Regions from separate parts of the Homo sapiens genome. Here all the other regions are linked to region 5. The links come from fine-mapping of genetic effects on gene expression. A gene starts in region 5. Each other region holds a variant in brackets. All regions are shown on one strand. Distances are from middle to middle. Region 1 holds the start of LFNG (LFNG O-fucosylpeptide 3-beta-N-acetylglucosaminyltransferase). Region 2 overlaps IQCE (IQ motif containing E). Region 3 overlaps IQCE (IQ motif containing E). Region 4 holds the start of MIR4648 (microRNA 4648). Region 5 holds the start of IQCE (IQ motif containing E).

What was found. PIP is the estimated chance that this variant, and not a neighbour inherited with it, causes the effect.
Region 1: its variant is fine-mapped to the expression of IQCE in whole blood (INTERVAL, PIP above 0.99).
Region 2: its variant is fine-mapped to the expression of IQCE in esophagus muscle (GTEx, PIP 0.99).
Region 3: its variant is fine-mapped to the expression of IQCE in whole blood (TOPMed, PIP above 0.99).
Region 4: its variant is fine-mapped to the expression of IQCE in tibial artery (GTEx, PIP 0.95).

The regions. Positions count from the first base shown.
Region 1 is chr7:2,516,251-2,521,380 of GRCh38, reverse strand. It overlaps LFNG (LFNG O-fucosylpeptide 3-beta-N-acetylglucosaminyltransferase), which reads right to left and starts at 1,607. Exons shown (of 8, transcript NM_001040167.2): 1 at 1,088-1,607. The coding sequence starts at 1,519. RefSeq lists silencers at 1,432-1,541, 1,552-2,081. The variant C/T (reference allele first, on the strand shown) is at 2,114.
Region 2 is chr7:2,607,358-2,612,469 of GRCh38, reverse strand. It overlaps IQCE (IQ motif containing E), which reads right to left. Exons shown (of 22, transcript NM_152558.5): 22 at 1-2,426. The coding sequence ends at 2,308. Among named protein-coding and RNA genes, the nearest start is that of TTYH3, 22 kb to the left of the region's middle. RefSeq lists enhancers at 1,250-1,823, 1,824-2,397. The variant C/A (reference allele first, on the strand shown) is at 2,028.
Region 3 is chr7:2,583,625-2,588,624 of GRCh38, reverse strand. It overlaps IQCE (IQ motif containing E), which reads right to left. Exons shown (of 22, transcript NM_152558.5): 10 at 4,916-4,988; 11 at 4,340-4,389; 12 at 2,254-2,417; 13 at 748-803. Among named protein-coding and RNA genes, the nearest start is that of IQCE, 27 kb to the right of the region's middle. RefSeq lists an enhancer at 3,096-3,667. The variant CTCCGGGACAA/A (reference allele first, on the strand shown) is at 2,343.
Region 4 is chr7:2,524,064-2,529,153 of GRCh38, reverse strand. LFNG (LFNG O-fucosylpeptide 3-beta-N-acetylglucosaminyltransferase) reads right to left here. Exons shown (of 8, transcript NM_001040167.2): 2 at 4,411-4,459; 3 at 3,836-3,935; 4 at 3,587-3,740; 5 at 3,384-3,469; 6 at 2,745-2,910; 7 at 2,233-2,318; 8 at 725-2,008. The coding sequence ends at 1,942. MIR4648 (microRNA 4648) reads right to left here and starts at 2,080; the gene lies at 2,009-2,080. RefSeq lists an enhancer at 1-785. The variant C/T (reference allele first, on the strand shown) is at 3,209.
Region 5 is chr7:2,556,925-2,562,035 of GRCh38, reverse strand. It overlaps IQCE (IQ motif containing E), which reads right to left and starts at 3,057. Exons shown (of 22, transcript NM_152558.5): 1 at 2,819-3,057. The coding sequence starts at 2,854. RefSeq lists silencers at 2,376-2,445, 2,666-3,175.

The DNA of each region.
Region 1 (5,130 bases), 41 kb after region 5:
AACGGCCCGGCCGCCAAACAAAACCCACGGCCCCCGCCGCCCCCTCCCGCCAGCCCGCTGAGCCCCTGGGAATGGGACGCTGTGTTCCCAGGAGGCTGCCATGGGGTTCCCAGGGCCCCTTCCCCACGCCAGGACCAGGGAGGACCCTGCCCCTCCCCGTCGCCCTCATGACCTCACCAAGCCCTGCTCCCACCCACCCACAGTGCCCCAAAACAGGACAGCGCCAGGTCAGAAGGCCCTGGGTCTCCGGGGTTTGAGCAGGGAGGAAGGCGTGCAGGGTCTTCCCTGAGCCCCCACCCTCACAGCAAATGCCTCTGCATCTCCCAGCCCAGAGACACCCCCCCAGTCCCCGACTGCAAGCCCCACACACTGTCCCCATCCCGCCCCAGCCCAACCGTCCTGCTGTGGCCTCGAGGGAAATGTTCAAAGTGGGGTGTGTCTTAATTATGTGTGTGTAAGAAGCTGATGCCCAACTGAAGTGGGCTGTGCCCAAGGTTGCAGGCCTCAGAGACTACTGCACTGTGCGGGGAGGGTCCCCACACAGACCCCAAAACCTGGAGTTCTTTGAGATGTACTCCCCAGGACCCACCAACCAGCAATGACTTCCCTCCCTCCCCGTACCTTAACACTGTGATGAGGAAAGGGCCCAGAGGTCAGAACCCCTCACTTCTCTAAAGGAAGAGCCTTTCTCCCCAGGAAGGGGTCTGAGCTGAGGGTGGGTCCGAACAGAATTTGCTTGTGGAAGTTTGAGGACATAATGCCCTATGAATGCGCTCCAATGTTTACGGGGTGAGAAGTATCACAGGGCACCAACCCCAAGCACTGGAGACTGGTGTAGGGTCCTGCAGCCATCCAGGACTCTGGAGCTGGACAGGAGGCGGGGCCCCGGGGACAGTAACACAACTGTAACGGGAGAGTGGCCCCAGCAGGCAAACTGGGTGCACCGGGGTGCACTGGCGTCGCCCACAGATGGCCCTAGTGGCTGGATGGGGATGCAGCCTGACTCCCATGGGACACTGCCACCAGCTGGACCAGATGGTGGGTCCCCGCCCCGCTCGCCCGCCAGTCCAGGCCGCGGGGGGCTCACCATCTCCTTGTGGCGCGAGATCCAGGTCTCCAGCAGCAGGTCGAGGCGCGCGCGGTGGAACTTTTTGGTGGTCTTGACAGCGATGAAGACGTCTCGGGGCGCGAGCGGCTCGGCCAGGGGGCGCGGGTGGCCGTCGGCGGGGCGGGGGGCAGCCCCGGGCGGCGGGCCCGCATCTCTGCGCGCGCGGGTGAGCAGGCTGAAGTACTCGGACAGACTGTGCACGTCGCGGACCAGCGCCCCGGGCGCCGCCGCCGCCGCCCCCAGCCCGGGCGCCGGGGCAGCCCCCGCGGGGCCCGCCAGGCTGCGCAGCGCGCGCCGGCCGCGCTCGGCGGGCAGTGGAGGCGGCGGCGGGTCGGCGGTGAGCACCAGCAGGCAGGCGAGCAGCGCGCCCGCCAGCGCCAGCAGCAGGCGCCGGCCGCAGCGCTTGAGCATGGTGGGGTGGCGGCCGCGCGGCGCGCCCTTCCCCGTGCGCCTGCCTTGCACCGACCCGAAGCCCGTCGCTCCGGCGGCGCAGTCCAGCAGCGCAGCACCAGTGTCCCGCGCTCTTAAACCTCCCCGCCCCGGTCCCGCCCCCGTGCGCTCATTGGCTCCCGGGCTCGGGGGCGGGGCCTCGCGCCGGTCGCCGCTCCACGCCCGCAGACCCACGTGGGGCCGCGGCTGGGGGCTGGGAACTGCCCAGAGGGCGCAGCGGCCCCGCCCCCGGCGCGCACGTGCACGCCCCGCACCCCCCCCGCCCCGGGTAGCCCCTGCGGGCCGCCGAGGGGCTTGGGGACGGGCCCGGCCCGCGCCGGTGTCCCTGAAGAGGAAACCCAGCCTGGCCAGCGCCGTCCGGGGATGCACCGGGCGTCCCGGCACGGGAGGGGCGCGCCCTCGGCGCAGCGGGCAGGGTGCTGAGACCCGGGCTCTGGGCTCCGACGCACCGCGGGGGACATCCTACTTCCTCGCTGTGCGCTTCCCCTCCTGAGCACGGCTTCCTCCCCTTGGGACGCGGCAGGCCTTGCAAACTGGGGTGGCGCCTGGGTCTTC[C/T]CGAGCGCTCGGTTCAGGGGAGCCGTTATTTGTACAGAGCAAGAGCTTGGCCACCTGTGCCGCAGGTGGGGACACGAGGTTCTAACGAGAAAGCACCAGAACCAAATTCCACTCCTTCCTCCCTGGCTGATTTCCTCGATCCTGGCCCTCCGTCGGGAGGGTTGGCTCCCCGAAATCCTCAGGCGCCCCATGGCGAGGAGAAACGAAGGCCGCCACTTCCCTCGCCGGATGAAAGGCCGCCTTCTGTCCCATTTGGTCTCCTTGCGCTCGGGCCAGATGCGGCCCAGCTGTGCGCCCTCCCCACCCCGCCTCCCCGGCACACGGCCCCCATCCCCGGCCCTTCCCACGGGCCCGGGCCCGCCCCTCGCACGAGCGGGGGCGGCAGGAATGCGCGCCGGCAGCCGAGGGTGAGGGGCGAGGGGCCCGGAAGTGGCCAAGGGTCGCCTGAGCAGGGTGTGAGCCCCCTGCCCGCCACGTCCTCCGGAAGCGTGGACGGAGGCGGCTCTGCCCGTGGCTGCGCTGTCTTCCCGTGCCCTCCTAAGCAGGGTCTCTGCGACCACCACGACCACCACCGCCACCACCGTGGCTAAACTGCCCCCCTCGGAGTTATGTTCACGCCTGAGATGGCATTTTAAATTCTTTAAGTGCCCTTGGAGCCCCTCTCCTTACCTCTACCTGAATGTCAGCCGCAAGACAGCAGCGACCTGGTGTCATTCAGACCTGGAACAGGTTTTGGGACATAGTAGGTGCTCTGAAAAAATTCACTGGATAAATGTCTGGCCCCACTGTCAGACCCTCTCCCCCCGCTAAGGACGCTGTAGCCCATTTGCTCTTAGGGCCCCAGGGGCCCCACCCCTAGCCCCTGTACCCGCTGGGTGGTGTGGGGGATGGGGGTTCCCAGGCCTCTTCCTGGCCCCAGGTAATTAGCAGTCACCACCTCCGAAAGCAGATGCCCCAGCAGATGGTGCTGGCTGTGCCCAAGTGACAAGTCTCCCATGGCGTCACCTCCTGCCATAAACCCCTTCCGATCAGCCAGAGCCTAGCCCTGGAGCCTCCATGCAGCTGGAGAGGCTTGAGGGTGAGCCGGGGAGAAAAGGACCCAGTGACTGGGTTGGCTGCCCCCACAAAGTCAGCTGAGTCCCAGCCCAGCCCCAGCCTCCGGACTGAGGGGTGTCCATGACCCCACGTGCTTCAGTCACACCGCTGACTTCAGGCTCTCCCATATCTGAATTGTTTCAGAGACGGAGCCTCATCCATCCCCATCATCTCTTCCCTGAATCACTTGGGCAGCCTCCACCCCCATCCCACCCACTCCTATCCTACCTGCTTTACTTATTCTCCACGCAGCAGCTGGACAACTAGGATCATAGCCACTCACACACCCACACAAAGAGCAAAACCCTCCATAGCTCTCCACTGGCTGAGTTAAAGTCCCGCCTGATATTCACGCACCTCGTGACTTAGTCCCAGCCCCGTTTCTTGAGGCCCAATCCCTCCTCAATCCCCTGCAGCCAAGCATGGCCAAGCCCCCAAATATGTGCACGGGTTGTGCTCTGTACCTGGACTTTACATCAGTGGCACCGATGGTGGGTGCCATGCCACCCTGCACCCCACCTGACAAGATGCTGTGAGTCCATCTCCCCACAGTTCCCAGGCCAGGGGATGGGGCTTCCTGCCCTGAGCCGCCCCACCCCCGCAACTCCTGCTCCCCAGCTACCCCTGACTGCGGTGCCTTTGACCCAGCAGGTCGTGGGAGCAATGTGCCCATTGTAGAGAAAGCAAGGGGGATATTGTACCAAGGGAGTGACCATACAGAGGTGGATGGCCCAGCCTGGCAGGGGCACATGCATAGAACTGGGTAGGGGGGGTTCCCGCGTCTCTCTGTAGCCAGGAATGGGAGGAGTGGGGGACCTGATGCTGCTGCCTGTCTGGAAGCAGCGGGAGGAAGCTTTACAGCATTCTTGTGGGGGCCGCAGGCTTTGGCAAGAGTGAATCAATTTCTTTGCTGTCAGGAGAATGGAATTTCGTGGTGACTTCTTGAGGTCTGAAAACTGTTGAGGGGGTGGCCCGCCTAGCCACCCCCGCCCGCTTCCCCAGGCTCAGCTTCAGCCTGAAACACTTCCCTCCCCATCCAGACCCCAGGTCTCCCTCTAGGGGCCCACTGGGCCACACAGCCCTGGTAGGGAAGTGGGCTGTGGGATGGTGCTCAGCCCTGGACAGGACAAAGGGGAGCTGGGGAGGGGGCTAGAGAGGGCTGACCGAGTTGCCAGTGAAGCCTCTTGGGGCCGTAGGGTCCTGGGGAAGAGGGGCTGGGGATAGAGGCTGCCCCAGGGCCCAGCCTGCCTTCCGAACCCAGAGGGGCCACTTCTCGGCTTTAAGACCTTGAACCGGTGGTGTTACTCCCTGAGCCTCAGTTTCCTCACTTGTAACACAAGGATGACATACCATCCAGACCAGGCAGGCCAGCTCTGGCCCTGGCGCATGGCTTCATGGGCTTCTTGGACCCTAGTCTTCCCCTCTGCAGGGCCCCTCCACCAGTCCCAGTTTGGGGCTCCCAGGCAGCTGGGTGTGCGAATGGCCCGAGAGACCTGCCTGCTGAGGTCAGGTGGAAAGCAGGCCCACGGAGCCAGGACCCACATGACCAGGGGCCCTACCCTCCTCCTCTAGCCGCCATCAGGCTGAGACAGTGTTCTGTCCCCATCTGAGTCCAGGCCTCCTCTAACTGCCAGGGCTCAGCCCGGGGGTTCTCCTGCTGGAGTCAGTGCCACCAGGTCCCCAAAGCCATGGGCTGGGTCTGCCCTTGACACTCAGGCCTAGAGGGGAAGGGCTCGGGGCTGGCTTTGAGGTGGCCATCTGCCTTCCCTCCCCCGGGCTGTTCCTTGGGGCTGCTCTGGCCTGCCTTCCTGCAGGGTCCTGGGAAGATCTGTGGAGACATAATGGGTGACCCATTAACTCGGCAGGAAGCCATCCGAGGCGCCTGTCCACTCATCGGCTGATGGAGAGCGGCCCCACTCAGT
Region 2 (5,112 bases), 50 kb before region 5:
CCCCAGGCCCTGGGGCCGTGGGCAAGGAGGCCTCTCCGCTTGGTACTGTCTCCATGGAACAAAACCACACTGCAGCGTTCCAGGACCACAGAACAGCCAGGCAGGCTGTACCCAGCAAAGGGGACTGGTGACCAGCACTGGACACTGGGCATCAGCTGAAGACACTGGCTTGAGAATGCATTGCCATTTACCCAGCGAGCTTCAAGATGGATGCTGGCTTTTAAAAGAGCAGCCCAGCTGCACCAGAGGACATGGCGGTTTATGTATGGAACATTGGCCTCCAAGCCTGAGGCAGGAAAGCCCTCTCCATGCCTGTAACCCAAAGCTCTAGGCCACTGGTTCCCAAGAGTGAGCACGTCCCGCAGAAACAGCTTGGTTTAACAAGTGGGAGCAGCTGCCACAAGAGAACGGAGGGTCTCCCCCAGCGAATGTGCAGGTGTCTCACTTTCTCAGGGCTTTCGAGGTGGACTGGCTCCTAGGACCTGAAGCTTTGAGCTGGCAAGCAGGGATGGCTTGGGACAGCGCCCCAGGGAGTGGACCCGGGCGGGTGGGGTGAAGGCAGGGGTCTAAAGAGGGCCTGTGTCAGTTACACAGTCCATCAAGTTACCAGCCAGTTCAGTGGAAAAAAAAATGGACTTGGCAACCCACAGACCAAATAAGGAAAACACGTACACAAGCCAGGCCCCCCGCTGACTCGCTTCCACCCACTGCAGAAACAGAAGCTAAGTGGAGACAGGGGCCAGGCTTCGAACCGCAGGGTGGGGCGGGTCCTGCACTTTGGGTGGCCCCATCCCTGAGTGACTGGGAGAGAACAGGCTGGGCTGGGGACACCTGTGTCCTCCTCCCATAGAGCAGGTGGACATGCAGAGCCTCCTCTCTCCCTTTCACAAGCCACTGTGTTGGGGCCATCGGCCTTCTGACCGCCACAGAGAATGACCCAGGCTCAGCTTAGGTGACTCAGAAGGCCGCCATGCTGCAGAAAAGGCGCCCAGGGGTTAAGCCTGTCCCCGTGGACGGAAGCCTTGGGAGAAGCTGTCAGCTGTGTAAAAAGGGGCTTTCTAACCATTGGGTCTCTCCTGAGACAGCGGCCAGCCCCGGCAGGAGTCCCCACAGGGGTGCTGTGGAAATGCAGACACCAGGCCTGGGCTGTGCAGGGGTCTAGATGCCCCTGAAGGCCCGCCCAGGTCTAAGGCTCTTCCTCTTGACGCCCCAGCAAGGGCTAATCTCACACACAAGCAAGAGATGGGCACTGGACACTGTGCGCTTCCCCCAGGAACTCCCTCCTAGGCCTCTGCAGCTGCTGGCTCCACAGGCTCCGCACGCCCGGCCCAGCCCAGCCCAGCCCAGCCCAGCCCAGCCATGGAGCTTGGGAGTGCAGAGGCCGCACACATGGGGTGACGGGGACTGTCCCAGACACCAGATGCAACACGCCCCACCACGAGCCTATGCTGTCCCTTGGAACGGCGAGCCTGCCTCCTCACCCTCCTCTCCTCCTCTTCCCCGGGTGGCCCCACACAGGCTAAGGCTCCCGCCACCAGCTTGGGAACAGACATCACCCTGCTGTTCTCAGAAGCAAGTGTGATGCTGCTTTTGTAATTGGGAATTTTAAAAAATCTTGGTCTCCACAGTGACAGAATCCAACCAAATTCCTTCCTGGGAAGGGCAGCTCTGGAGGGCAGTGCTCCAGGGGATAGCAAGGGTGACGGGAAAGGACGGTGTGAGCGGGTGGGGCATGGAGTAAGATCATTTGGGGACCTGGGTGTCTTTAGCTCCTCACTGGCTTGGGACAGGCCGTGTTTTGCTGTGGGGATGGGGGAAGCCGGTCTCACACCTTCCTAAGGCACAGCGGGGTGTGTCTGCCTGGCCTGCTGGGCTGAGATCGAGCAAATCCTGGTTGTTGAGGGTGTCACCAGGAAGAGGGGGCATGGTGTCGGCGCTGGTTGCGGATAGCAGCTCCTCACGGTCAAGGTCGTGGGCAGGCGGCAAGGTGCTGTCAGAGAACGTGTCACTACAGGGCTCCCTGGCAT[C/A]TGCGAGTTCACGGCAGATGTGTCTGTTGGCACTGAAAATCCACCATCCGAGCTGCAGCTGGAGATGAGGGGGATGCGAGCCGCTGGCCCTCCCCAGAGAATAAAGTAAAGGCATTTGGGTCTCCTTCCACAAACAAAAGCACAAAGAGACACGACGCAGATGCTGAGGTGTTAAGTAGGTATCATCGTTCTTCTCCTAACACGATAAATTATCTTTCCAGTCGTGGTTCCTATGTCCTCGGCAGCGCTGCCATCACGGCGTGGAGACAGTGACGGGGACCTAAACTGGAAAGTTCTTCGTGGGCAGAGACGGTGCAATGACAATATCGTCGGAATCATCGGAGTTGACGTCATCCCCAGGTAGAGGTGCCAAGGCCTGTGGCCCTGAGGGAGAGGGGTCTGCAGAAATGAACCACAGGGAGAGGGGTCAGCCACGCTGACCTCAGGGGCTGCCACCACGGACACCCTTACACTGTCTGCTCTTCCCCGGCAGGCAAGACGGCAGCCACCCCGAGAAGCAGTAAGCCATGGGGCACACAGGCCCTCAGGAGCAACTCACACACCTGCCAGAAAGCCTCACTCTCCGCCCTCAGGACCAACTCACACACCTGCCAGAAAGCCTCACTCTCCAGCCTCAGGACCAACTTACACACCTGCCAGAAAGCCTCACTCTCCAGCCTCAGGACCAACTTACACACCTGCCAGAAAGCCTCACTCTCCAGCCTCAGGACCAACTTACACACCTGCTAGAAAGCCTCACTCTCCAGCCTCAGGACCAACTTACACACCTGCCAGAAAGCCTCACTCTCCTCACCTTCAAACTCAGCTCTGAGTATTCTCACCATTTCCCCCAGTCAAAACACCTGCAAAAGCAGACATTTGCCAGCATGGAGGAACCTCGAGTCCACACTGGAGTCATTCCCTGAAAGCCATTCCCACAGCAGCAGTCCAGGAGTCTGGGGCCTGGGTGGGTGGCTACCCGTGTGTAGGAGCGTTTCTGCTGGGTGCAGTGGCTCATGCCTGTAACCCCAGGACTCTGGAGGCCGAGGTGGGAGGGTGGCTTGAACCCAGGAGTTCCAGACCAGCCTGGGCAACACAGCTAGACTGCACTTCAAAAAAAAAAAAAAAAAAGCCAACTTCCCTGTTAACTCGCTGGCCACTGGTATAGAGGGCAGGAGGGGGCAAGGCACGGATCGCTGTGAGCTTGCAAGCTGCTCGGCCATTCCCCCTTGGATGCTCCTTCCTAAGCATCTAGAGCGTTCCAAACTTTTAATCCATTCTAGAATGGGACGCCACCTACAGACGGGATGGAGGTGGGTACCAGAGCTGAAGAAGGGACGGGTCCTACCACAGCAGCAGCCCCAGAGCTCCTTGCCGGGGAGCCTGAGTGTCGCTGCCTTGAAAGACGAAAGTAAAAAAGTAATGAACTGCTCATGTGAGATTTTAAAAAGGGAAGGAAATGGCAATTCGGCCATGCCGCAGATACTGTAACTGTGTCAGCTTTTTTTTCCTGCAACTTTCAAGAAAATTCATATTAAAGGGGAACCTTATGAAATTAAAAACAGCTTTCATGGTTATCTTCAAAAACAACCAATCAGCTCAAACAAAAGCTTGATTTATACTTTTCACAGAGACATTTCCTTAGGTCAATAAAGCTGAATCCCTGGGTCACGGGGATGAACTTGCGTCTTTAAAATCACTTGCGTTGAGCAAGAGAAAAGGGCAGCATCAACGCACGCTTTAGCCCTGATCAAAGCCTCTAAAGGTCACCAAAGGCAGGGTCTGGCGAAGCCGGTAGAATCGGCTCCCGGAGAACAACTGAAAGCCTTTTGCAGAGCCCACGAGTCACAGGCCGGCCCGACCGCTTTGCGTGTCTGTACATTCTCCCCGAAACCCCAGGCTGCTCATCTTTGTGTTGAGCTTTACAAATGGAAGTTTTGGAGAGAATATCAAAGTTCAAAGTTTTCTAGCTCTGACGAAACTAGGTTAAAAAATGAAAATAAAATGTGATTTCATACGTGGTATTTCCAGGTCAAACGTGGTATACGGTTCTTAGCTCGTGCAGGAGACTCTCTAAAACACAGCCCCTAGCGGGACCCCCTGGGGAGGGAAGGCTCTCGGGCTCCAGGTCTGATGCGGGCCTCAAAACGGCCTCTTCCCAACTCCGTGACTCCGCGTCAGCACAGGAGGGATCTCCCAGGAAAGCGAGGCCTCCGCCCGCCACGGGCCCCCACACTTACTGGAGTGGTACTGGGGGGCTGCCGGCTCCCTGGGCCCGTCCTGAAGGGACATTCAAATTAAGGCATGTGGGTCCTGGGCAGGCCTCACCCTTCCTTCACCCCCTGGCCTTCCTCACCCTCACCCTTTGGGCTCAGAAGAGCCTCTTCCTTTGTGGTTTTCCTTGCTGTTCTCTCTCCTCCTTCCCTGACTCCACCCTGGAGACCTAAGGACTCAGCACAGCAAAGCCCTTCGCCTGACACTTCCCACGTGAAACAGCCCCGCACGCCACACTCCCCTCCTCAACAGGGTCTTAAGGCTGCCCTTCTCCATCTCCCGACAGTCCCGAGTCTCAACAGCGTGCCTCCGCACTCATCTTCCCTTTACAGGAGGTGTCAATGGGGGGTTTCTAATTGCAGGATAAGACACGGGATCTCAAGTCCACGCAGAGCAGCATAGATTTGGGGTGGAGAGTGGCTTTCCAGCTGTCTAGCCCGTTCTCTACTTTAAACATGAAGGGACTGACGGCCAGAGAAAGGCAGGGCCTGCTGGGGCATCCCCGTCAGCTCCGGGCAGAGCAGGGATGAGGCCTCACACCAGGGTGTGGCATCCTGCAGTGCCAGCGGCTTCTTCACTGACTGTTTTTGGACTTTAACAAAGTAGAAAAGGAAACAATAACACGGTTTTACTCAACAAACAAACAGGAGAAATGCTGGCCTGAAGGAGGAAGCCACCTCGGTCCTGTTGGAGCTGAGAGCAAAAAATAAAGACAGCAAGGACCTCGGCAATTCCAGGCACAAAGGACAAGCTGGGCCAAGGCGGGGCCCTGTTGTGGGCCTTCCTGGCATAAGGCGACGCTTAGTTCAGA
Region 3 (5,000 bases), 27 kb before region 5:
TCCCAGCACTTCAGGAGGCCAAGGTGGGTGGATCACGAGGTCAGGAGATCGAGACCATCCTGGCTAACATGGTGAAACCCCGTCTCTACTAAAAATACAAAAAATTACCCGGGTGTGGTGGTGGGCACCTGTAGTCCCAGCTACTGGGGAGGTTGAGGGAGGAGAATCACTTGAACTCGGGAGGCGGAGGTTGCCGTGACCTGAGATCGCGCCACTGCACTCCAGCCTGGGGACAGAGTGAGACTCCATCTCAAAAAAAAAGAAAAAAAAAACAAAAACAAAAACAAAACAAAGGTCCAATTCCAATAGAATCAGCCTAATTCCTACTTTGCAGTCGCATAGGGGATGTGGGGAAATGTTCATTTCCCGACATTTCTGCCTGGCCAGGAGTTGGGTCAACAATTTCCTGTGGATTCCAACACGACTTGAGTGGTGGGAAGCAGTGCCTGGTCATCAGCGGGCAGTGCACAGCCCACAGCCTGCACAGGCGGGCTGGACTGTGAGGGGCTCCAGTGCGAAGCGCGTCTGCCTGCGGCCACGCACAGAAGCTCACAGCCCAGCGAGGGGCATGAGAGCTGCCTTCAGCGTTGTCTAGACCTGGAAGAAGTCTCCTTGCGGTCTGTGTGTGGCGCTGCCTGGCAGACAGCCAGTGCCATGCTCAGCGCCACCTTCCGCACCCTGTGAGCCCGTCCCCACAGCATGAGGCCCCTGGTCCCCAACGACAGTGGCACTGAGACGCCCGCTCACCTTCTCCAGCTCCACAATGCGCCTCAGCAGCCGGGGCTTGCTCCACTCCACATAACCTGATGGAAGCAATGCGGTTTCAAAACGGCATCCTGGTGGGCACTGCCAGCAGGGCCACCCTTCTCAGGTATGGCCTGAGGCTCCTCTTCCGCAGCCGGAGCAGCCTGCGGGGCTGCAGAGCCACACCGACAGGTCCTGGCTACCAGAGAATTTTGCCAGCGCTGGCCCAGTCTCTGCCCCCTTGGATCGTGAAGAGATAGATGTCTGTATTAACAGCCTCCAAGCATCTCGGGGTGACATCCTTTCCCGATTCCACCTGGCCAGGCCATTAAGACAGTTCTCATCAAGATCTCCGATGACTGTCAGTCTGCCAAATCCAACAATCGGTTCTCAGCCTGTCCCCTTCCTGGCATGCACAGCCCCTCGCTAGCCACTCCTCCCCTCTGCCTCGCTGGCTGCCCCTCGCCTCCCCCATATACCGCCAAGTTCAGGGCCTGACCCCCTGCTCCTCTCACTCCAGGTGACCTCACTCGATCCACCTAAGTGCTGGTGACCCACATGCTCAGTTCTCCAGCCCAGGCCTCTGCCTCGCACCCCCACACAGCCACTGCCTGGCCCCCACTCCCACACACTCAGACCTCCCGTGGCCTTTCCCCAAACCTGCCCCTCTGCCTCCCCCATCTCAGGAAATAGCAACTCTGTCTTTTTCAGCTGCTGGGACAAAAAGCCTTGGAGCCTGGCTGCTCCCTCTCAGAGCCTACACCCTCTCTGCAGTTTCCCTAAGCTCCAGCTACAAGATGCAACCAGACCCTGAACACCTTTCACCACACCCACTGCTGCCCCCATCCAGGCCACCAGCAGCCCGACTAGACAAGCGCAGAAGCCTCTGTCTGCCACCATCCCCATCTCTGCACAGAAGCCAGGGGGCCTCGGGAAGCAGCACGGCCCCCCTCCACCCTCTGCCTAACACTCCCACAGCACCCCTAAGGCTCCCATGGCACCCTGCCTCGCCCCGCTGGGCCTCAGGGGCCACACTCCACGTGTCTCCCAGGCACTCAGCTCTGCCCCGCCTGTCCCACGCCTGCTGCCGTCTTCATGGCTATCTCGCCCCTTCCAGGTCCCGCTCAGCTGTCACCGTCTTGGGGGTGCCTTCCTGTCAACCCTGCTTGCAGCTGCACACACCACCTGCCTCACCCCAAAATGTGTCCTCCTCCCCTCCTCCATGGCACTTACAGCCATCTGACACATGTCACGCATCTGACCCAGCTCCTCTCTCCCTCCCACAGCATTGTCTCCTCCAGGGATGTCTGTGAGCTTCTGTTTGCGGCTCCATCCCCGGGGCATCGCGTGGCCCGCGGCAGGTGCTGGCACATGTGGGAACTGGCGTTGCCCAAGGGTTCACATCTGCCCTCGTGGTGCCTGTCCTCAGTTGGGCCTACCCAGTGGCCATGCCCTGCCATTCCCTGCCATTCCCTGGCCTCCCTCCTGGAGTGGCTTTCAGGAAGGTACCCTGTGTCTTGGAGATGGTTGGGGAGGTGCTCAGCACGCGGTCCAGGTCCTCCTTCAGGCTCTGGTTCTCTTCCGTGAGCTCCTGGACA[CTCCGGGACAA/A]GCTCAGGAGGGCACTGCCCATCTTCTTCTGCCTTTTGGCGCCCGTCTTCTTCTCCCCCAGGGGCCTGGAACAACCAAATCGTGGACTGAGGTTTGCATTGCTAAGCTGGTTTCACACATGCTTGAAACGAGGGACAGGTGAATCACAGCTTGCTCTGTTGGTTGTGAGCTCAGAGTGGTTTTTGCAGGTGAGTATTTGAAATCGAATAGGCAGTAATAACTTTGAACTCTAAATAAGCAAAATGTTAGCACCCAAAATGGAACCCCATCCTTATGCAAGGTAAACCTGTGTAACAAAATACCGTGTTCAACCATCAGTATTATACTTTCCATGCCATCACTAGAAGGGCTGTGGAAAGGCATCTTGTTACGCCAGGTGCTTGCAGGATAGCTCGGGTTTCGCCTCTTAGCCCAGGAGGTGTAAAGTACAGTCGATCCTCATTATCTGCAGGTCCCGTAATTGCAAATGTGCTTGCTGCTAAAATGGATCCATCAGCCGAAAATCAATACTCATGCAGGTTTTGTGGGGATTCTTGCACGTGCACAGGTGATGAAAAATGCCAGTCGCTGGCGCGCACGTTCCCAGCTGGGGCTGACCCAGGTGGTGCTCAGCTCCTCACCTCAGCTCAGGTAAAAACAAGTGTGCTTTCTGTGGCCTGCCTGGCGCTGTGGCTCTCACGTTTCTGTGCTGTTTGCTCGTGACGCTGCCTTGCGTGGGCTGGACTGCAGTGCTGAGTGCCGTCCAGTGCCTCTAAGCTCAGGAAGGCTGTGTGGGCCCCCGTGGAGACGCTTATGCGCGTGCAAGAAGCCTCGTTCAGGCCAGCCATGAGTTTGATGAAAATTAATCCACAATCACTATTAAACAGGGTGTCTTTAAACAGAGACACATGTTAGCCAGGTTATACATTGACTAGCTGATGAAAATGCTGTGACCAGGCTGGGCATGGTGGCTCATGCCTGTAATCCTAGAACTTTGGGAGGCTGAGGCAGGCGGATCACCTGAGGTCAGGAGTTCGAGAACAGCCTTGCCAACATAGTAAAACCCCATCTCTACTAAAAATACAAAAATTATCTGGGTGTGGTGGCATGTGCCTGTACAGTCCCAGATACTTGGGAGGCAGAGGCAAGATAATCACTTGAACCCAGGAGGCAGAGGTTGCAGTGAGCTGAGATCACACCACCGCACTCCAGCCTGGGCAACATTTGCCAAAAAAAAAAAAAAAATGTTATGAGCAGAAGCTCGCAGGAGCCCTGTACCTCCCATTGGAGCAGTGGTTTAGTATTCGCTCGTTCTATGTTCATGGAGACTTTATAACTCTGTAAGGCGGACGTGATTACCACTACACTACAGAAACCTGCAGACATTTTATAACTGAATAATGAGAATCGACTGTAGTTAGCATCTGGTCCTTTACAGAAAAAGTTTTCCAACCAGTTTTAAGGATTAGGGGTAAAGAAAAAGGAAAGCAGTCCACGACGTCAGCAAACTGCTGCAGAGGCCAGTGACGTGGCCAAAGCCATGATCAGAGATCAGCCACCCAGAAGCAGATGGAAGCTTTGGGAAAGGGATGTGGGAGATCTACCAGACAAGGAGAACCTCGGTGTTTCTCCTGATAAACTTATTTAGGAAAACATTAGGTGGCAAAGTAAACTTGTCCTTGTGTGCAATGTCTTCCTAAAAAGGTGGCTCTGCTTTGAAACAGCACTTTCTAGCTCTAAGCTGGAAGGCAGGATGTAGAATCTATAACGAACACGGGCGGCATTGAACACGCGTTGGCCATCAACACGTGGTCACTATGAGGAGTCTGTGAACACTGCAAATGGAAACGTGTCAACTCTAACCCTGAACAGAACAGGTGCAGTGTTGGCAGCACTGCCAAGCTAAGGGCAGTATATGCCGCACCCACGTGACAGCCACACATTCTCAGAGGAGCTTCCACAACGTGAAGGCAACACACAAAACACAGCTTGCAAGCGGCCATCATACTTCTTTCCGGTGGTTTCAGAACTTGCCAAGAGGGTCTGGAGACGATGCACCTGTAAATACCAAATTGAAATGCATGAAAACACAAGGCTAGCATGGAGAAGACCTTATCTGAAAAGACCAACATCACAGTCCTGACCGCTGCCTACGGCCAGAAGCGGGAACTAAGTGGCCGCACTTCATCTTTCCGTTGGGCTGAAGCAGGAGCAGGCTCCAGGAGCACAGCTCTGGGCCACCTGGGCTCGGCCCACCACCCGGGGCCAGCGCCGGTCCCCTCCCACTCGGTGCCCGCCCTCCGCCCCGCCACCCAGCACGGTGCCCGCCCTCCGCCCCGCCGCCCAGCTCGGTGCCCGCCCCGCCGCCCAGCTCGGTGCCCGCCCCGCCGCCCAGCACGGTGCCCGCCCTCCGCCCCGCCACCCAGCACGGTGCCCGCCCTCCGCCCCGCCGCCCAGCTCGGTGCCCGCCCCGCCGCCCAGCACGGTGCCCGCCCTCCGCCCCGCCGCCCAGCTCGGTGCCCGCCCTCCGCCCCGCCGCCCAGCTCGGTGCCCGCCCTCCGCTCCGCCGCCCAGCACGGCGCACCTCCTCGTAGTATGTCTCCATGGCGATCCGCATCTCTTCCAGGTTGGTAGTCTTCATATCGGTCTGGAGTTTGCTGAAAACCCAA
Region 4 (5,090 bases), 33 kb after region 5:
AGCTGCTGTATTTAAAAAACAAGCGTCTGGATCTCTGCAGGGGCTGGGACCAGCTGCAGTGGGGGCTCCGGCACTGCTCCTGCTCTCCAGGACTCTTCCCACCACCCCTGAGCGGGGTCGGGGCCTGGGGCCACATCACAGGAGAGGGAGGTGCAGCATTACCAGCTGTGGGGCGGCCGGACCCACGGCCTGCCTGGCTTGGAGTCTGAGCGCCTCCCCAGCCCACCAGCATGGCTGCTGGACCTTGGGCATCAGCTGCTCCGTGCCTCAGTTTCCCCACCTGCAAAGTGAGGCGATGATGTGGACTCTGTGAGCTCGTGGCAGGAGTGAAGTTGGATAAGGAGGCCCCAGGCCCGGTCACAGGAGTCACTGTCCCTCCTGCAGGGGCTGGGCTCCCCAGTGGCCAGACCAGGCCAGAGCCTTGGGGTTGTGCTTTTGGCTGGGACCTAGAGCCCCCAGCATCCTAGACCTGTTCCTCCTGGAAGCACAGGGCTCACGCTCCAGCGACCACCCTGACCCTGGGTGGGCCGCACCTGTAGTCACCAGCAGGCAGCTATAGTGACGCCAGGTTTCGTTCCAAAATAGTTGTCTCTAAGCGTTTCCTATCTACCTGCTCCATGCGGTGCACCCAAGGCCAAGCCTCCCCTTCACCTGTGTGCCTCTCCTGACCCTGGCTGCCCTGGGGCTTAGGCCCCACCTCCAGCCAAGACCAGGACCCCCAGGATTGCTGCAAAGAGCACCTTTATTCACAGCAAAAGGACGTCACCATAGCAACAACACTTCAATTCCCTGAGAACTTTTCCCTTATCATTCGCTTTCCTAGCTATGTCTTTGCAAAGAGAAAAACAACAAGAAACACAGCCCACGGGACAGGTGAGCCATGCTGGGCCCAGCGGGGAGGTGGCAGCTACACAGGAGGAGGGCAGGGATGGGAGGTTCCAGATGCTGGAACGCATAAATACACAGAGTGCCAGACAGTCCCACTTCAGCTTTAAAAACAAAGATGACCCCGAGTTTGGCTTCTGTTTTTTCTGATCCACAGAAAAGATAAGATAAAATAAGACCCTCCCCCACCCCCACCCTCCCAAGCAAAAAACAAGAACACCCTACTTTTTACCCATCCCCTTTCAAAAAAAACAGCACAGTAAAAAAATACTGTCACAATATTTACAGACACGCCCACTGTGGGCGACTTGCTCTCTACTTTGGAGAGGAGATTAAATGCTGAGCTCTGACTCACCCTGTCCTGGGGAGGCAAAGGGAAGACCTCTGAGGAGGCCTGGAAGACTCCCCACTCAGAAGAGCTGGGAGGGGTGCCACTGTTTGCCCAGCTGGACAGCCAGCCACTGGGGGCTTCGTGGGGCCACTGGAACTGGGCGGTGGCTGCTGTTACTCTTAAGCCACAGCGTCCAGGCCAGGAGGAAGGGGATTGGGTCACGCACCCCCAGACCCAGCCTCCCCTGCAATGAGCATGGCTCAGTGAGTCGTACTTGGGGCTATGACACAGGGGCCAGGACTTCAGGGCACAGGTACCCCCAGCACAGAGCTTGTGGTCAGCAGGAAGAGAAAGGCACCTACGCATCGCATCCCTGCAAAGTAGCCCGGAGCCCCGTAGCTGTAGAAAGATCCAAAAATCCTAACAGAATTGCCCTCGGAGTGGCCTCCGACACACAAATCCTTCCTCCAAGCAGGCCCTGCAGCCCACTGGCCCTCGGAGCAGAGGCACATAAGTGGCGCTGGTGCCCGCCCCTCCACAGAGCAGAACTGCCCAGCAGCCTGCTACCCGGGTGGGCATGCAGTACACACACACACACACGCACACGCACACGCACAGGCACGGCCCTAGGGGAGCCTCGAATGCCGAGGCCAGGGCAGCGCAACAGGGTCCCTGGGCCCTTTGGATACCAGGGGCGCCCAGGGATTGGGTCTCAGCCATGGCCACTAGAAGATGGCAGTGCGGGGACACCAGGGTGTGTCCGGGTACAGGTGGCAGTGGATGGAGCGGAACCTGTGGGAACAGAGCAGGGGCTGGTCTGCGTGGGTGGCAGGCAGGTGCTGAGCTCCCATTTGCAGTCCCACAACACTGGCGGCCCCACCCCGAGCAAGCAGGACTCCGGGGGACACCTCTATGTAGAGTCATGCCGCTTAGAGAGACCCTGCTGCAGCTCCACGAGGCCCCCTGACGCCCCTAGGCCACCCTACGCAAGCCCATCTGGGCCGGGGTTTCCTTACCTGGATGGGTCGGCCTCCACCGAGAAGGGCCCCTTCACGTGGACGGCGTTCCGCTTGTTTTCAAACATACCGTAGCTCAGCGTCACCTGTGGGGAGCGGGCGGAGTGATGCCGGGAGGGGCCCGACATCCCTGGGCCCCGCCCCAGGCTGGCCACACAGCCCTGAGTGAGGCAACGGCCCTGCCCTGGCCTCCCTTGGACCTGGAAGGACACCTGCCCTGCACACCCCAGGAATAAGGTCCCAAACTGGGGACCAGCTGGGGCTGGCTGCATTGCCAGCGTGGACAAAATACGCACAGTAGGCGCATCACAGTGAAGAGAAGAGACGGCAGGAAAACAACCCGCCATAAACAGCTTTGAGCTCATGGCAGGAGTGACCCCCCCTGGCTGACAGTGGAGTGCTGCCTGGCCTCCCTGTTTAGAACAGTGCCCCACCCCACTGCGCCCCTCTCGGCAGCCACACGTCCCTTCCTGTGCTCTCGGAGTCCTGGCGGGGCCCGGAGGATGGTGCACCTGCTCGTGGAGCTCCGAGGTGGGCACCTGCTGCAGGTTCTCCAGGTGGGAGTGGAAGAGGCCGCTGCGGATGAGGGGCACACCCAGCAGGGCCTCCACGATGTAGCCGATGGTGCAGTCATCAGGCAGCCGGATCCGCTCAGCCGTATTCATGAAGTGACCCCCGCTGCGGGAGGGAAGGGCCCAGACCAGTGAGCAGAGGCGGGAGCCATCTGCTGGGAGCTGGGGAGGCCCCACCAGGCAAAGGCGCTGCACTCCTCAGGGAGAGGAGCCCTGAGGAGAGCTCTGGGCTGCAGCTCCCTCTGCCTCCCCTGGCCACAGCCAGGGCACACTCCCTGCACAGCTCCTGTGCTCCGTGGCTCTCTGTGGAGGGAATCTGGGTGCAGGGAAGAGTCCTGCCGGATGGTGCCTGGGGTGCTCATCGCCCCCCTGGCTGCTCTGAGCAGGTCAGGCTTGGGGGCAGC[C/T]GCCGTAAACACAGCTGCCCTCTGAAACCCAGAGGGAAGTGGAATATAGGAAGTAAGTGGGCAGTGCCACACAGGAGGCTGGGGACACCCCATGGCTGGGAAGATGAACTAAGCCAGGCCCCACAGTGGCGAGGAGCCTGGGACCGGGCTGGCCTAACCTGTGCAGGGCACTCACCTGGCCCACGGGCTCATCTTCAGAGCCAGCCCACGGCTGATGCAGAAGCCAGCGCCGCCCGTGGCAAACCAGAAGTGGACAGGACGCTGGGAGAAGGGAGAAGGTGTCCTGAGACCCAGGCGCTGCTGCCCCTCACGGTCCCACCCCCACTCCGGGTGTGCGCTCCGCGTGGGCGTGGGGGACTGGGAGGGGCAGGCACTCACCACCTTGTTCTCGCTGACCCGCTCCATGGCCTGGATGGGCCTGTCCAGGCTGGGCTTGCCGACGTAGACGTCCCGCGTGTGCGGGTAGCTGGCCAGCAGCCGCAGCAGGGCCCGCAGGTTGACGTAGTTGTCATCGTCCACGTGGCAGAACCACCTGAGGACAAGGCAGGGCCATCGGGGGAGGGCATGCCGGGGCGGGCGCTGCCAGGCTCGGGCAGGGAGATGGGGGTCCCCCGGGGCCACACTCACTTCCTGCCGGACTCGATGAAGCGGTCATACTCCACGGCCATCTTGCAGGACAGCGCCTGGCGGCTGTGGGCGGCCGAGCAGTTTGTGATGACCACGTTGCCTGTGGACAGGGGAGCGGCTGTGAGTAGGTCTGAGCCGGCTCCCAGAGAGGGGCCTGGCCTGGGGGACGCCACAGGGCCCAGGGGCTCGAGAAAAGCCCCCTAGTTCAAGCTGGGCCCGGCGGCCGTAGCCTCCCCCACCCTAGCTCGGGGCTTGGGCCTGTGGACCCTCCCGCAGCCCAGCCCCTTCCAGGGCGGCCCCGCCCCCGCCCATTCAGGCAGCTTTTTCCCAGCACCCGCCACCTGTTGCCGCTGCCTGGGCTCAAAGGGACCCGGGGGGCTGAATGGGCTTCATTTGCATGAGAATTGGGGGGCCCGAGTGGTGGGGCGGGGCATGGAGCAAACCCCATGAGTAAACTGCCCTCCCTGTCCTGCCCTTGGTGACCTCTCGGCCCAGAGGGGCAGGGAGACTGGAGGGGGAGCGTTCGGCTCTGGATGGAGGCCTGGGCCCCCTCCCGCCCCAAGTCCAGGGCTCACCCGTGTGCCTGGCCAGGGCCTCATCTTCCCCGTCAGTGAAGATGAACGTCTGGAAGGAGAAAATCGGCCTTCAGCAGGCAGCCCTTCATCCCCACCCCAGGGCCATCTGTGGGGGCCGGACGGGGCGCCCTGGAGTTGCTGCAGCTGCAGCTGCGTCACACTGACACCCACCCTTCTCCGGGCCTTGGTTTCCCCACTCGTGCTGAGAAGGGCTCAAGTGCCCCATCTCAGTGCCATCTGGGCCAGAGCTCACGCATTCACTCGCCCTGGGGGTGGGGGATGGGGGCCTCACTCCCCAACCTCGACAGCTGCACCCAAGGTCGTCCAGGCGCGGTGAGGCACGAGCCAGGTGGTGCGCCTCGCCCGCCCGCCAGGTAACCGGTTCCCGACCCGCCCCGTGCACCTGGCAGGGCACACACCCTTATTGACACAGCACCCAGCCTGCCACTTGGAGGCTGCTGGAAAGGCGGGGGACAGGCGGGGTGGCGGGAGGGACAGGCGGAGGAGGTCGGCTGTGGGAAGCCAAGTCTCAATCACTCGGGGTTGGGGACAAAGGCCTTCGCTGGGCGGCTGCCAAGCCCTGGCGGACAAAGGGCCTGGAGGGAGGATGAATCACCAGGCATTGTCCGCCAGCTTTGTCCTGGGCTGGCGGGAGAGGGGCGCCGGGCCGGCCTTAACTC
Region 5 (5,111 bases):
AAAAATCCAGGGCAACACAATATTTAACAGAGGAAGACGGAATGTTTCCCTTCTAATAGCAGCAGCAAGACAAGGCTGTCCTTTCTCATCACTTCAATTCAAATTATACTTGAGTCTTTTGCCAGGACATTAATGTGAGAAAAGTAAATAAAAGACATTCAGATTGAAAAGAAGGAAGTAAAACTATCTCTATTCACAGACAACATGATTTTATACATAGAAAATCCTAATGAATCTACTAAAAAACTAGTAAACATAATAAATGAGTTCAGCAAGTTTGCAGGATATGAGATTCATATAAAAATATTATTGTAAGGCCGGACGTGGTGGCTCAGGCCAGTAATCCCAGCACTTTGGGAGGCCAAGGCGGGTGCATCACGAGGTCAGGAGATCGAGACCATCCTGGCTAACAAGGTGAAACCCCGTGTCTACCAAAAATACAAAAAAATTAGCCGGGCATGGTGGCGGGCGCCTGTAGTCTCAGCTACTCGGGAGGCTGAGGCAGGAGAATGCTATGAACCCGGGAGGCGGAGCTTGCAGTGAGCCGAGATCGCGCCACTGCACTCCAGCCTGGGCAACAGAGCAAGACTCCATCTCAAAAAAAAAAAAAAAATTATTGTATATATTAGCAGTAAATAAGCTGAAATGAAATTAAGAAAATTCAATATACAATAACATCAAAAAGCATAAAATACTTAGGAATAAATTTAACAAAAGCATAGGCTTTGTACATTGAAAAATATAAACCATTGCTGAAAGAAATCAAAGATCTACATAGGGCTGGGAGCAATGGCTCACGCCTGTAATCCCAGCACTTTGGGAGGCCAAGGCAGGTAGATAACCTGAGGTCAGGAGTTAGAGACCAGCCTGGCCAACATGGTGAAACCCCACCTCTACTAAAAATAGAAAAATTAGCTGGGTGTGGTGGCAGGCGCCTGTAGTCCCAGCTACTGAGGAGGCTGAGGCAGGAGAATCCTTTGAACCTGGGAGGCAGAGACTGCAGTGATCTGAGATGGCATCATTGCACTCCAGCCTGGGTGGCAAAGCGAGACTGTGTCTTTTTTTTTTTTTTTTTTTTTTGAGACAGAGTCTCACTCTGCTGCCAGGCTGGAGTGCAGTGGCACGATCTTGGCTCGCTGCAAGCTCCACCTCCTGGGTTCACGCCATTCTCCTGCCTCAGCCTCCCAAGTAGCTGGGACTACAGGCGCCCGCCACCACGCCCGGCTAATTTTTTGTATTTGTAGTAGAGATGGGGTTTCACTGTGTTAGCCAGCATGGTCTCGATCTCCTGACCTCATGATCTGCCCACCTCAGCCTCCCAAAGTGCTGGGATTACAGGCATGAGCCGCCGTGCCCGGCCAAGAGACTCTGTCTTAAAAAAATAATAAAAAATAAATAATATACATAAATTATTTTTATAATCACAACAAGCAGTTTTGTTCTTAAAGATGAAGAAGCAGTAACTGAAGGCCAGTGTAGACAGGCAGGCCCTCCAGATGAGACAGGACGTGGTGCCCTGGGGAACAAGCAGGCAACTTCAGCTGCTCCAAGTTGGCCAGCAGCACCAAGCCCCTACTGCGGGTGCAGCTGTGCTGAACCCTGTGGTCTCCTTAGGAGGAAGCAAGGTGAGCACAGTTCCCTTGATGTGAAACCTTCCAAAGGCTTCCTCTGTTTCTCCAATAAAATCCAAATTCCCTGCATGGCCAGCAGGACTCCCCATAGTCAGGCTCATGCCCATCTTCTGCTCAGTCTCCTTGCCCGCGTCCCAACGGGCTTTCTTTTTTTTTGAGACAGGGCCTCACTCTGTTGCCCAGGCTGGAGGGCCGTGATATGATCACAGTTCACTGTAGCCTCCACCTCCTGGGCTCAAGCGATCCTCCCACCTCAGCCTCACTCTGTCTCTCAGGCCTTGGAGGGCCATGATCACAGTTCACTGTAGCTTCCACCTCCTGGGCTCAAGCGATCCTCCCACCTCAGCCTCCTGAGTAGTTGGGACTACAGGCAGGCACCACCACAGCTCGGCTAATGTGATGGTTTTTTGTAGAGATGGGGTCTTGCGATGTTGCCCAGGCTGGTCTGGAACTCTTGGCCTCAAGCGATCCTCCCATCTCGGCTTCCCAGAGTGCAGGGACTACCGGGGGACTACCGGCCTGAGCCACGGCTCCCGGCCATATGGGCCTGTTTCATTTTCTGCACAGCACTTCTCACTTTCTGACACGATCTTAATTACCTGTTTATTACCTTGTCCCTCCGCCCCCCCCCCCCCCCCCACTGGAATGCAGCTTATTCCCGTGTCTCTAACACACAGTAGATATTTACCGGGCAAAGTAACTAACCTAAGGCTCATGCACCCTCGCCCTGGGGAGTACATCGGGCCCCACCCTCCTCCAGGAAGCCTCCTCTGACCAAGCTGGGTTCCCAGACCCTGGGGCTGCCTCCCTCCCACCCCGAAGGCTTGGGGCCACACGGGATCCGTGGATCCCGCCTTAGATCGGGGGTGCCCGGAGGCACTTACACCGTGAGCTCCGTCACCTGCGGGCCGCAGACTCGCAGGCGCCCAGAGGCGAGGGCGCGGCGTCCCGGAGAGCTTCCTGGAAGCGGCGGCCTCTGCGAAAGCGGGCGCGGGCGAGGCTGCAGGCGGCGCGGGGCCTGCAGCGCGCTCTTGTGCGGTAACAATAATGGCAGCTGTCACCCGGCCGTGCGCCCCGTCCTCACGCCCCGGGCCGGCCCCTGCGCGGGGCCCCGAGGCTGCGGGCGACGGAGACGAGCCGAGGCCTCGCGGACGCCCGCCCGGCGTCGCCCCCTCGCCCGTTCTTACCGTGTCCAAGGCCGGCTCCCCGGTGCCCAGGAACATGGTGGCGGCGCTGCCCGGCCGCCCCTCAGGGTTGCTGGCTCGGGCGTCCGGGTCTGGGAATCCGCGGGCAGCCCTGGCCGCCCGCAGCCTCGGGGCCTTCCCTGGCGCCGGCCCGCGACCCCGCTGCCATGGCAACCAGGCCGCCGACCTACCCAGCCGGGTAAGCGACCTGCGTTCCCCCTGGGGCGACCATGCGCGTGCGCAGAGTCCGCGGGCGCCGGCCGGCCGACCAGGAGCGCTCCCGGAGTTCCCGGGGCGGAGCGCGGGGGCTGAGAGGGGGAAAAAAACCGGCCCGGCGCAGTGGCTCGCGTCTGTAATCCCAACACTATGGGAGCCTAAGGCAGGAGATTCAATTGAGCCCAGGAGTTTGATACCAGCCTGGGCAATGTAGCGAGACCCCGTCTCTCGAAAAATAAAATAAAAATAAAAGCCAGGCATGCTGGTGCACGCCTATAGTCCCAGCTCCTCGGGAGGCTGAGGTGGGAGGATCGCTTGGAGCCCAGGAGGTCGAGGCTGCAGTGAGCTATGATTGCACCACTACAGTCCAGCCTGGGCGACAGAGCAAGACCCTGTCTCAATCAAACAAACACACATAATAAACTTTCGTTTGCTTTCAGGGTCTCACCCAGGGCGCTTTGCTCTACGTGCTCCCTGTGCATAAGTACCTCTTGCCACTCTCCCACCCTTGGGCTTCGCAAACTTTTTGCCCTTCTCTTATCTAATTATAGAGCCAGCGCCTATCTACGACCTTTTATCTGTGATTCTGAATTCCACAAACTTCCGAAAGCCCTTCACAACTCATTTGAAGGCCAGACCAGTCCTAACCTCAACTCTCCGGGAGGAAAACTCTGAGCTGAGGCTATTTATAGTGCTTATTTATCCCACGGGGTGTACATGAGTGAGTTTCACTGAATAACTTCTTTTTTTTTTTTTTTTGACGGAGTCTTGCTCTGTGGCCCAGGCTGGAGTGCAGTGGTGCGATCTCCGCTCACTGCAACCTTTGCCTCCTGGGTTCAAGCGATTCTCCTGCCTCAGCTACCCGAGTAGCTGGGACTACAGGTGCGTGCCACCACGCCCAGCTAATTTTTGTATTTTTAGTAGAGACGGGTTTCACCACCTTGACAAGGATGGTCTCGCTCTCTTGATCTCGTGATCCGCCCGCCTCCACCTCCCAAAGTGCTGGGATTACAGGCGTGAGCCACTGCACCCGGCCCTGAATAACTATTAATACGTTTAATTATGGGGTGTGTGTCACACTCTGCTGTAATCTCATATTTAATGTACATGTGCCATGTCACATTTCTAAAATCTGAACAGTTCTGAATTCTGAAAAAACATTTGTCCCCAAAAGTTTGAGATAAGAAATTGTGGACCTGGGCCAGGCACGATGGTGGCTCACGCCTGTAATCCCAGCACTTTGGGAGTCTAGGGTGGGTGGATCACTTGAGGTCAGGAGTTTGAGACCAGCCTGACCAATATGGTGAAACTCTGTCTCTACTAAAAATACAAAAATTAGCCAGGGGTCGTGGGTGCCTGTAGTCTCAGCTACTCAGGAGGCTGAGACAGGAGAATTGCTTGAACCTGGGAGGTGGAGGTTGCAGTGAGCTGAGATCACACCACTGCACTCCAGCCTGGACATCAGAGCGAGACTCCACCTCAAAAAAAAAAAAAATTGTGGACCTGTGCAATACAATATTCAAATCTGGAGCCAGACTGCTTGGGTTCAAATCCAAACTGTGCCAATCCAGTAGCTGTAAGGCCTTATGAGTTAGCCTCTCTGTGCCTCATTTTCCTCATCTGATGGGCTGGTAGTGGTACTCTCCTACCGTTGCTGTAGAATCATACAAGTTTACAGTAAGTGAAGCACTTAGCACAGTGCTGTTGTTGAGTTTTCTTTACTCCACAATTACCTAACTGGGTGAATGTTAGTATCTCATTTCACAATGAGGAACCAAATTTCAGGGAAGATAACTGTGCATTTCAAACTTTTTCACACATGTAGTTCTAAGGATGTACGTGTGTGTGTGTGTGCAGGGGGCATGCAAGCGTCAGGGAAGTTGCTTTTCCAAGGTTACCCAGCACGGCTGGGCGCGTTGGCTCACGCTGGTAGTCCCAGCACTTTGGGAGGCCTAGGTGGGCGGATCACCTAAAGTCAGGAGTTCGAGACCAGCCTGGCCAACATGGTGAAACCCCGTCTCTACTAAAAATACAAAATTAGCTGGGCGTGGTGGCCCGCACCTGTAATCCCAGCTACTCG